Homo sapiens: one gene and its partner. The protein of the gene in region 2 interacts with the protein of the main gene of each other region in a biochemical or structural test. Each region holds a gene or a part of one and is shown on either strand. Other genes may lie near its edges.

Region 1 (3,652 bases), on a different chromosome or scaffold from region 2:
CAAGGGCCCCTGTACAAGGTTCCTAACAGGCTGCTGGGCTGGGAGCTGGGCCATGGGTCCACCTGCCTGTACCCGACACCCCAGGCAGTGGGTCCACCCAGCCCATCTCCAGCACCCCGGGCAGTGGGTCCATCCCACCCATCTCCAGCACCCCAGGCAGTGGGTCCATCCCACCCATCTCCAGCACCCCAGGCAGTGGGTCCACCCCACCCATCTCCAGCATCCCGGGCAGTGGGTCCACCCTGCCCATCTCCAGCACCTCAGGCAGTGGGTCCACCCTGCCCATCTCCAGCACCCCGGGCAGTGGGTCCATCCCACCCATCTCCAGCACCCCAGGCAGTGGGTCCACCCTGCCTATCTCCAGCACCTCAGGCAGTGGGTCCACCCCACCCATCTCCAGCACCCCAGTCAGTGGGTCCACCCTGCCTATCTCCAGCACCTCAGGCAGTGGGTCCACCCTGCCTATCTCCAGCACCCCAGTCAGTGGGTCCACCCCGCCTATCTCCAACACCCCGGGCAGTGGGTCCACCCAGCCCCATCTCCAGCACCCCAGGCAGTGGGTCCACACTGCCTATCTCCAGCACCCGGGCAGTGGGTCCACCCAGCCCCATCTCCAGCACCCCAGGCAGTGGGTCCACACTGCCTATCTCCAGCACCTCAGGCAGTGGGTCCACCCCGGGCATCTCCAGCACCCCAGGCAGTGTGTCCACCCAGCCCATCTCCAGCATCCTGGGCAGTGGGTCCACCCAGCCCCATCTCCAGCACCCCAGGCAGTGGGTCCACCCTGCCCATCTCCAGCACCCCGGGCAGTGGGTCCACCCAGCCCATCTCCAGCACCCCGGGCAGTGGGTCCACCCTGCCCATCTCCAGCACCCCAGGCAGTGGGTCCACCCCGCCTGTCCCCAGCCCTGTATGTGGGGTCCTGGCCTCTGGCCTGGGGAAGGGTCCTGGGCAGCCGAGTTGAGATGGCTCCAGGGAGCGTCAGCCCACAGTTTAGCTATTGAAGTGCCCAAAGTCCATCTCTCTGAGGCCTCCGAGCCTGGGAATGGACGTCCTCCTGCCCGAGTTACTCGCCTCCATGCTTTGCTTATTAGGGGTCACCCTCCCTGGTAACCAGGGTCTCACAGCGCCGCCCAAGACCCCCCGTGGCAGGCCAGCAGCGGCCGCAGAGGCCGCCTATCCCCCGCTGGCTGGCTCCAGGTACCGCGTGCAGGCAGAGGCCCATCTATTCTGCACGGTCCTGCTCTTCCTACCAGCAGCCTCTCCTGGCCTCCGTTTCCCAGGTAACACCAGCTCTGCCGGGACTTGGTCTGCAGCATTCCTGTGCCTCGGAGGTCCCACTCCCGGGGCGGCCCTCCCTCCTGGTTGGGGCCTGGGGCCGCCCTCTGCATCTGGCTCTGAGATGGGCCTTTGCGACATTCCCATCCCTCCACTGGAGGGTCTGCTCCCCCCGTCCCCAGGGTCTCAGGTGGGCTGCAGGTAGCTGGGAGGTGGCCGGCCCTTCCCTGGGTGTGCAGGGGCGAGGACAGGCTCACCCTCTTCCATTGTCTAAGTGGATGATGAACGTTTCATTCCCAAACTTCTCAAAAGTCTCGTAGTGGTGACGGTCCATGTTTCCTGCGGAGAGAGGCAGAAAGTGTCACAGCTCGTGGGGAGCCGGGCCACGTAGCTCAGAGGCCTCTGTGCTCTGCAGAGCGGCGTCTCCTCCTGCCAGCGTGACCTCTAAGCAATCTGGCCCCTTCACAGGCCACAGGACCGCAGCCGGGCCGTGCCACGGAGTGTGCCCTGCAGAGCCCTGCGTGCATCCGCTCCACGCAAGGCGAGTGACACGGGGACCCCGTGCCCCTGCGGGACGTACCCATGAGGAAGTCGAAGATCGTCATGTCCATGACGTCCAGGATGCGGTGGCTGCTGTCGTAGGGCGGTGTCTGCTTCACCTCCTCGCAGTAGTCAGGGTCCACCTCCCACCTGCGGGGAGCCAGCGTGAGACGGGGGGCCCAGGCCAGATTCTGGGGAGCCCGGCGCGTGCCATGAGGAGCAGAAGAGAAACACTGCGGCAGGGACCTTGGCGTCTGCAGATGGACCCGCCCGGGCTGCGGCGCTGAGGCTGCATTAGCGGGAGCACGGGTGTGGGAGGGGACGGAGCCGCTCTGCCCTGCCTCGGGGTGACCCCACCTGGAGCTGCCTTCACCTCTGGGCCCCGTGTTTTTTGCAGAGTCTCTGTGGGGAAACAGGACCTGGACTACACACTCACGAGGACAACGTGGGGCGGAAAGAACAGGGGCCGTTTCTCCCGCAGGAGTGAGGAGAGGGACGGGGCGAGAGCAGAGCTCAAACGCTGAGAGGCCCCGATTCGAGGGACCTGGTGGGCAGGCCGGCCCGGGTCAGGGAAGCACATGGAAATACTGGAGTAAGGACGCCCTCTGCCACCGTCTCATCAGGAAGCGGTCATCTCACACAGGCCAGCATCGCACAGCAGGCTCTGCACCCATCTCTGCCACCCCCGTGGGCGCCGACCCTCCCATGCCCGCCCAGGCCCAGCTCCCTCTGCCGTAGGGTGGCCGGACGCCAGCCCCCCGGCCCCGCACTCACTCGGCCTTCTTGCGCTTGTGGTAGGAACGCCGCCAAGGGTTCCGCCAGGTCTTCCTCTTGGCCAGGGACAGGTCGGGCAGGAAGGCCGCCAGCGAGCCCTCGATCTGGTCTGGCTTCCCGCACAGGGCGTGCTCCGTGGAGCAGTAGTAGGAACACTCGCCGTAGAAGCAGATGTTGTTGGCTGGGGAGGGACAGGCTGCGGGTTACCAGGGCCGCACAGGGCTGCGTCCTCACCTGTGGTCTCACGGCCCCCAAGGCCGGGCCGGGCTCTGCCTGGTGCTTCTCATGGGCAGGACTCACCCACAGTTCCCCATCAATCCCAGCAAACACCTCCACCCCACGGTACAGAAAAATGAACCCACAGAGCTGACGTCCCGAGGCCACACAGCTCCCCAGAGGCAGAGCCCGGCCTGAACCCTCGAAAATCAGGGGCTGGTCTATGGAAACCCTAGGGCCAACATTTAGTCTTTTAAAAAATGCATTCATATTGTCAAGAAAGTGAAGATACAATCCACAGAATGGTAGAAAACGTTTGCAAACCGCACATCTGAGGATCTAGCATTTAGAGTGTATGAAGAACTCTCATCACTCAATCACAAAAAGACAAAAAAAACTAATAAATGGGCAGAGGGCTTGAACAGCTGATTCTCCAAAGACGACCCTGATGGCCGACAAGCATGAGAAGAGACGGGCGCCATCGTGAGTCACCGGGGAGATGCAAATCAAAGCCACGGTGAGGCACCATCTCCTGTCTGCTGGGATGGCTTCCATCAAAAGAGCAGCTGCCGGCTGGGACGGGGGAACCGCCACCTCTGTGCGCTGCTGGCGGGGGGTGCACACGGCACAGCCACGGCGGAAACGGTCTGCAGCCCCCAACTGATTAAACACAGTGTTTCCACGTGACCCAGGAACTCCCCTCCCATGTAAACCCCTAAGAGAAGAGAAAACATTTCTATACAAAAACTCAGACACGAATGCTCACAGCAGCACCGCTCACCACAGCCGAAAAAGAGAGAATCCACCCAAATGTCCATCAAGAGAGGAGTGGACACGCCAGGTG
Region 2 (3,652 bases):
CCAAAGGTTCCAGGCCCAGATGAGAAGGCCCCTGGGAATGCATGCCATAGGGGTTGATGCTGGACATTCCCCAGCCTTCCATTAAATGAAAACATTTTCTATAAACTTACTGCTTTAAAAAAATGTTTTAACCAACAAACCTAAGAACTGCAAATGAGTTTGGTATAGTATAAATATTGTCAAATATAAAATTCCAAGAAACCCATTTGAGACTGATCTGATGATCTGAAGTTCTAACTAATCTATCAAACTTTCTAAGAAAAGGCATAGGTCAAGAAATCTTTTTAAAGCAAACATTATTGCTTCTGCTATAGCAGAGTGGAGATTTGGCTGAGCTGGTAAGAACCTCAGTGAAAAGGTGTCTTAGCAATGAAAGGGCTGAATCCGAGATTCCTCTAGATGAAAAATAAGGGGAATGGTCAAGTAAATTCCTGGTACTGGTTCTTTGCTGCCCTGTAATCAATATGGCATCTCACCCCCGACAACCAAGCCAGCCACAGAGAGAAGTGGGGTTCCCAGGGAAAGGGGTCGGCTGACCACCCTGACGGAGCTGGTGAGCACAGGTGAGCTCTACCTCATTTGTCTCTCATTCCTCAAAGTCTTCTGTGGTTTGGCTTCAGTGAGGGCAAAAGAGGGGAGACTGGAGTGAAAGTGAACTCTGCTTTTAAAATGTTCTTTTTATCTAAGGTGTGCAGGGTGTGTGGATAGCAAGTTTGAGTGGTAAGAAAAATCCCAGTCCAGGGTCTGAGCTCTACCTCTTAAAACTCTTCAGCTTAACAAAGTGACCCACAGGAACAGACATGAACATCTCTACACAGGGCAGGGCCAAAGGTGTTCCCAGGATCCTGCTAGCCAAGGGACAAGTCCTGATTGAGGGTCTAGAGCTCAGCAGATTTATGGAGGCAGCATGCACCCTGGGAGCCTGCCCAGACTCCTCTCTGGGGTTTCCGTTTTATCTCTCAAGCTTTTAAGATGCCAAAAGGAAAAGCCTTTAGGAGGACGCTAAGGATAACTTCGTTATTCTTCAGTTCTGTAAAGAGAAATGGGGAGAAAAAGATAATTTATTTTACTCATTCCATCCTGCACCATGGGCAAGGAAAGGGGGAAATGGGGACGAGGAAGGAGAATGTTTGGAATTGCAGAAGCTGCGCTAGACTCTGGTTTCTCAAACCACTGCTGATTTGCTTCTCATCGCTTGCAGCAAGACAGTCTGTGCCGCCAAGCCGGCCAGAGCTTGCAGAGCTCCCCTTGATCCCGCACAGAACCTGGCAGCCCACAGACCCTGTTCAGCCTCTGCAGGGTACTTAAGGAAGGAACTTGGGCATTTGAGTTGCCAAGGGCCTTTCTGATCTTGGGTTGTGTGGTTGTGCTGACAATATTCCTATCACCCTAGATAATTTCCCATTCCCGCTGGCTGAGTTTTGTCCCCTCGGGGGATACTGGCACCCTAGGATGCACGCTTCCAGATGGAGCCAACTGCATGCCCGTCTTTTATGAACCAAGACACACTGCCAGCCCTGGGACCACTGAGAACCCAGCAGGTCTGATCTTGTCCCTCTGACGCCCTCTCCTGGTGGTCACAGTCAGCACGCATTTCCAGCCTGAGCTGGAAATTCACACTGGCAGGTCTATTGTCTGTAGTTTCTTGCATACATCAGATGGAAGAACCAGAACTACCCCACAGCTGGGGTTCCTTGGCCTCCTCCTCCCCTTCCCTGTTTTACCACACTAGCACCTTCCTCTAGAGTCATGTCCATTTCCAGAGGAGTCAAGACAGCCCTGCAGACCTCAAATGGAGGGGTGGGTCCTGATCTATCAGAGCCAGCCCAGTCTATAGCCTGGGTTCATTTTCCCTCTGAGACCACAAGGTGGGAAGAAGTGATGGAGAGGAGCTGACAGCCGCGCCTGTTCTTTCTCCTGCCAAGCTGTGAAGCCAGCCAAGCCCTGCCAGCTTCCCTAGCTCTGGGGGAGGAGGAGGAGGCCTCTTGCTCAGGGGAGCTGTCACCAGCCTGCAAGCCCACTGTCCTAGCCACACTGTGAAACTGGAGGTGGCACTTCCCACAGCAGCTTCAGCGGAACCCAGGGACGCCACCAGAGGCATGAAGTGTGTGAAACTCCGGCCCGAGGGGAGAGCTGAGGAGGCGGGCAGACAGTGGCAAGCAGGATCTTAAGCAGCAGCTGCCTCTGGATTTACAGACCTGACCGCTTTCTGGCCCCAGGCGGAAGGAATTTGATCTGTGAGTAGTTCAAGGATGAGACTGACCACTTCAGCATGTCGGGGAACTAATTGGGGGCCTTCTGCTTCCAGTCCCACTTCCTAATTGTCATGAGAGCCTGTGAACTGAAGCTCCTGGGGAGTGCTGGAACTGGCAACCACTAAAGCTTCAGGTTCTAGATGCAGATCTGTTGGCTGAGCTAGTAAATTTAAAGTTAGGGGACGTGCAGCTTGTAGCTGCAACTCGACTGGACCCTGAGAGCTGGGAAAGGCATCAGAGGCATGGAGGCCGGGAGGGTGGAACCTGACAGGCGGAGAGAGAGCACCCTGCTAGCTGGCCTGTGGTTTTAGTGGTTTGATAACAACAGGCATGTTATTTTTCATACTGATGATTCTAGGGCGGTTCCCTGGACTTGGCTGGGACCAGAACTGTCTCACAGCTGCCAGCGCTCCCCACCCCCATGAGAACCATCGTGCTGAAGATGAAGAGCCAAAGCCAAACTGACCAGCCTCTGCAACCCCAAGCATCACCGTGTGAGGACAGCGTGATGTGGAGCCGCGGAGACCCCACGCAGTGCTGCGAGGGGCAACCACATGCAGGGGGGCAGAGGTGTGGGGGAGCAAGCAGATGCCACCGGCATGCCTAGGAGCCACAGGGAGCATGCGGGCTGGGCAGTGATGGGAATGAACGTGAACTCCAGTCCTGCCCCAAGAAGTCCTCCGGCCCCTCCTTCTCAATTCAGGGCACAAAGTGGTAACTGCAGCATGCAGAGGAGTCGAGGAGTCTTCCCTCGTCCCAGGAGCAGCACCTCGGGCACAGTCTCGGTCCCACAGAACAGCCAAGTGTGGGTTGGTGGTCTAGAGACCTCCAAAGATCCAGTGGGGGAAGGATGGGCAGCAGAGGGTCTACTCTCTGAAAATAAGGGGAAGGGATTTTCCCTCCCCACTGCCAAGGTCCCAGCTCTGGACGTGGGTGGCAGTGGCAGTTTCACCCCCAGCCGGAGGCCTGGTCTTTCTTGTTCTAAGAGGCCCTCCAGATCCATCTGCCTGAGCAGCCTCTGTCCCCAGGGACCTTCAAGGGCTGGCAGTTGTGTCCAGCCCCCTCTAGCCTCTGTCCAGGGACTGCAACCTTTTTCTGCAAACAGCCAGATACTACTTAGATTTGGGGGGCTGTGTGGTCTCTGCTGCAGTGACTCACCTCGGCCACTGCGGCACAAAGAGGCACAGACCACAGGAAAATGGGTGAGTGTTGCTACTACTGCCACGCTGGATTGGCACAGGCAGGTGGGGGATCAGATGTGGCCCGGCCGTTGTCTGCTAACCCTTGCCCTGATCCTAAGAACCTGCCTGTCTCACAGCTTGGGAGCACGGACCGTTCTCAGAGTATCTGCTGTGCACTGTGCAGAAGCTGCCTCATCTTCTCAGGGTGAGACCCAA

Evidence for each region.
Region 1: of the proteins of MXRA7 (region 2) and FAM20C, one has a biochemical effect on the other in vitro, tested with the Homo sapiens proteins (one large-scale study listed by IntAct).

Annotation. Positions count from the first base shown.
Region 1 is NC_000007.14:254,970-258,621, reverse strand, and holds part of FAM20C (extracellular serine/threonine protein kinase FAM20C precursor), read right to left. Parts: intron 2,774-3,652; coding exon 2,593-2,773; intron 1,969-2,592; coding exon 1,859-1,968; intron 1,618-1,858; coding exon 1,536-1,617; intron 1-1,535. UniProt on the Homo sapiens protein: Golgi serine/threonine protein kinase that phosphorylates secretory pathway proteins within Ser-x-Glu/pSer motifs and plays a key role in biomineralization of bones and teeth.
Region 2 is NC_000017.11:76,679,850-76,683,501, forward strand, and holds part of MXRA7 (matrix-remodeling-associated protein 7), read right to left. Parts: intron 1,031-3,652; coding exon 1,018-1,030; 3' UTR 1-1,017.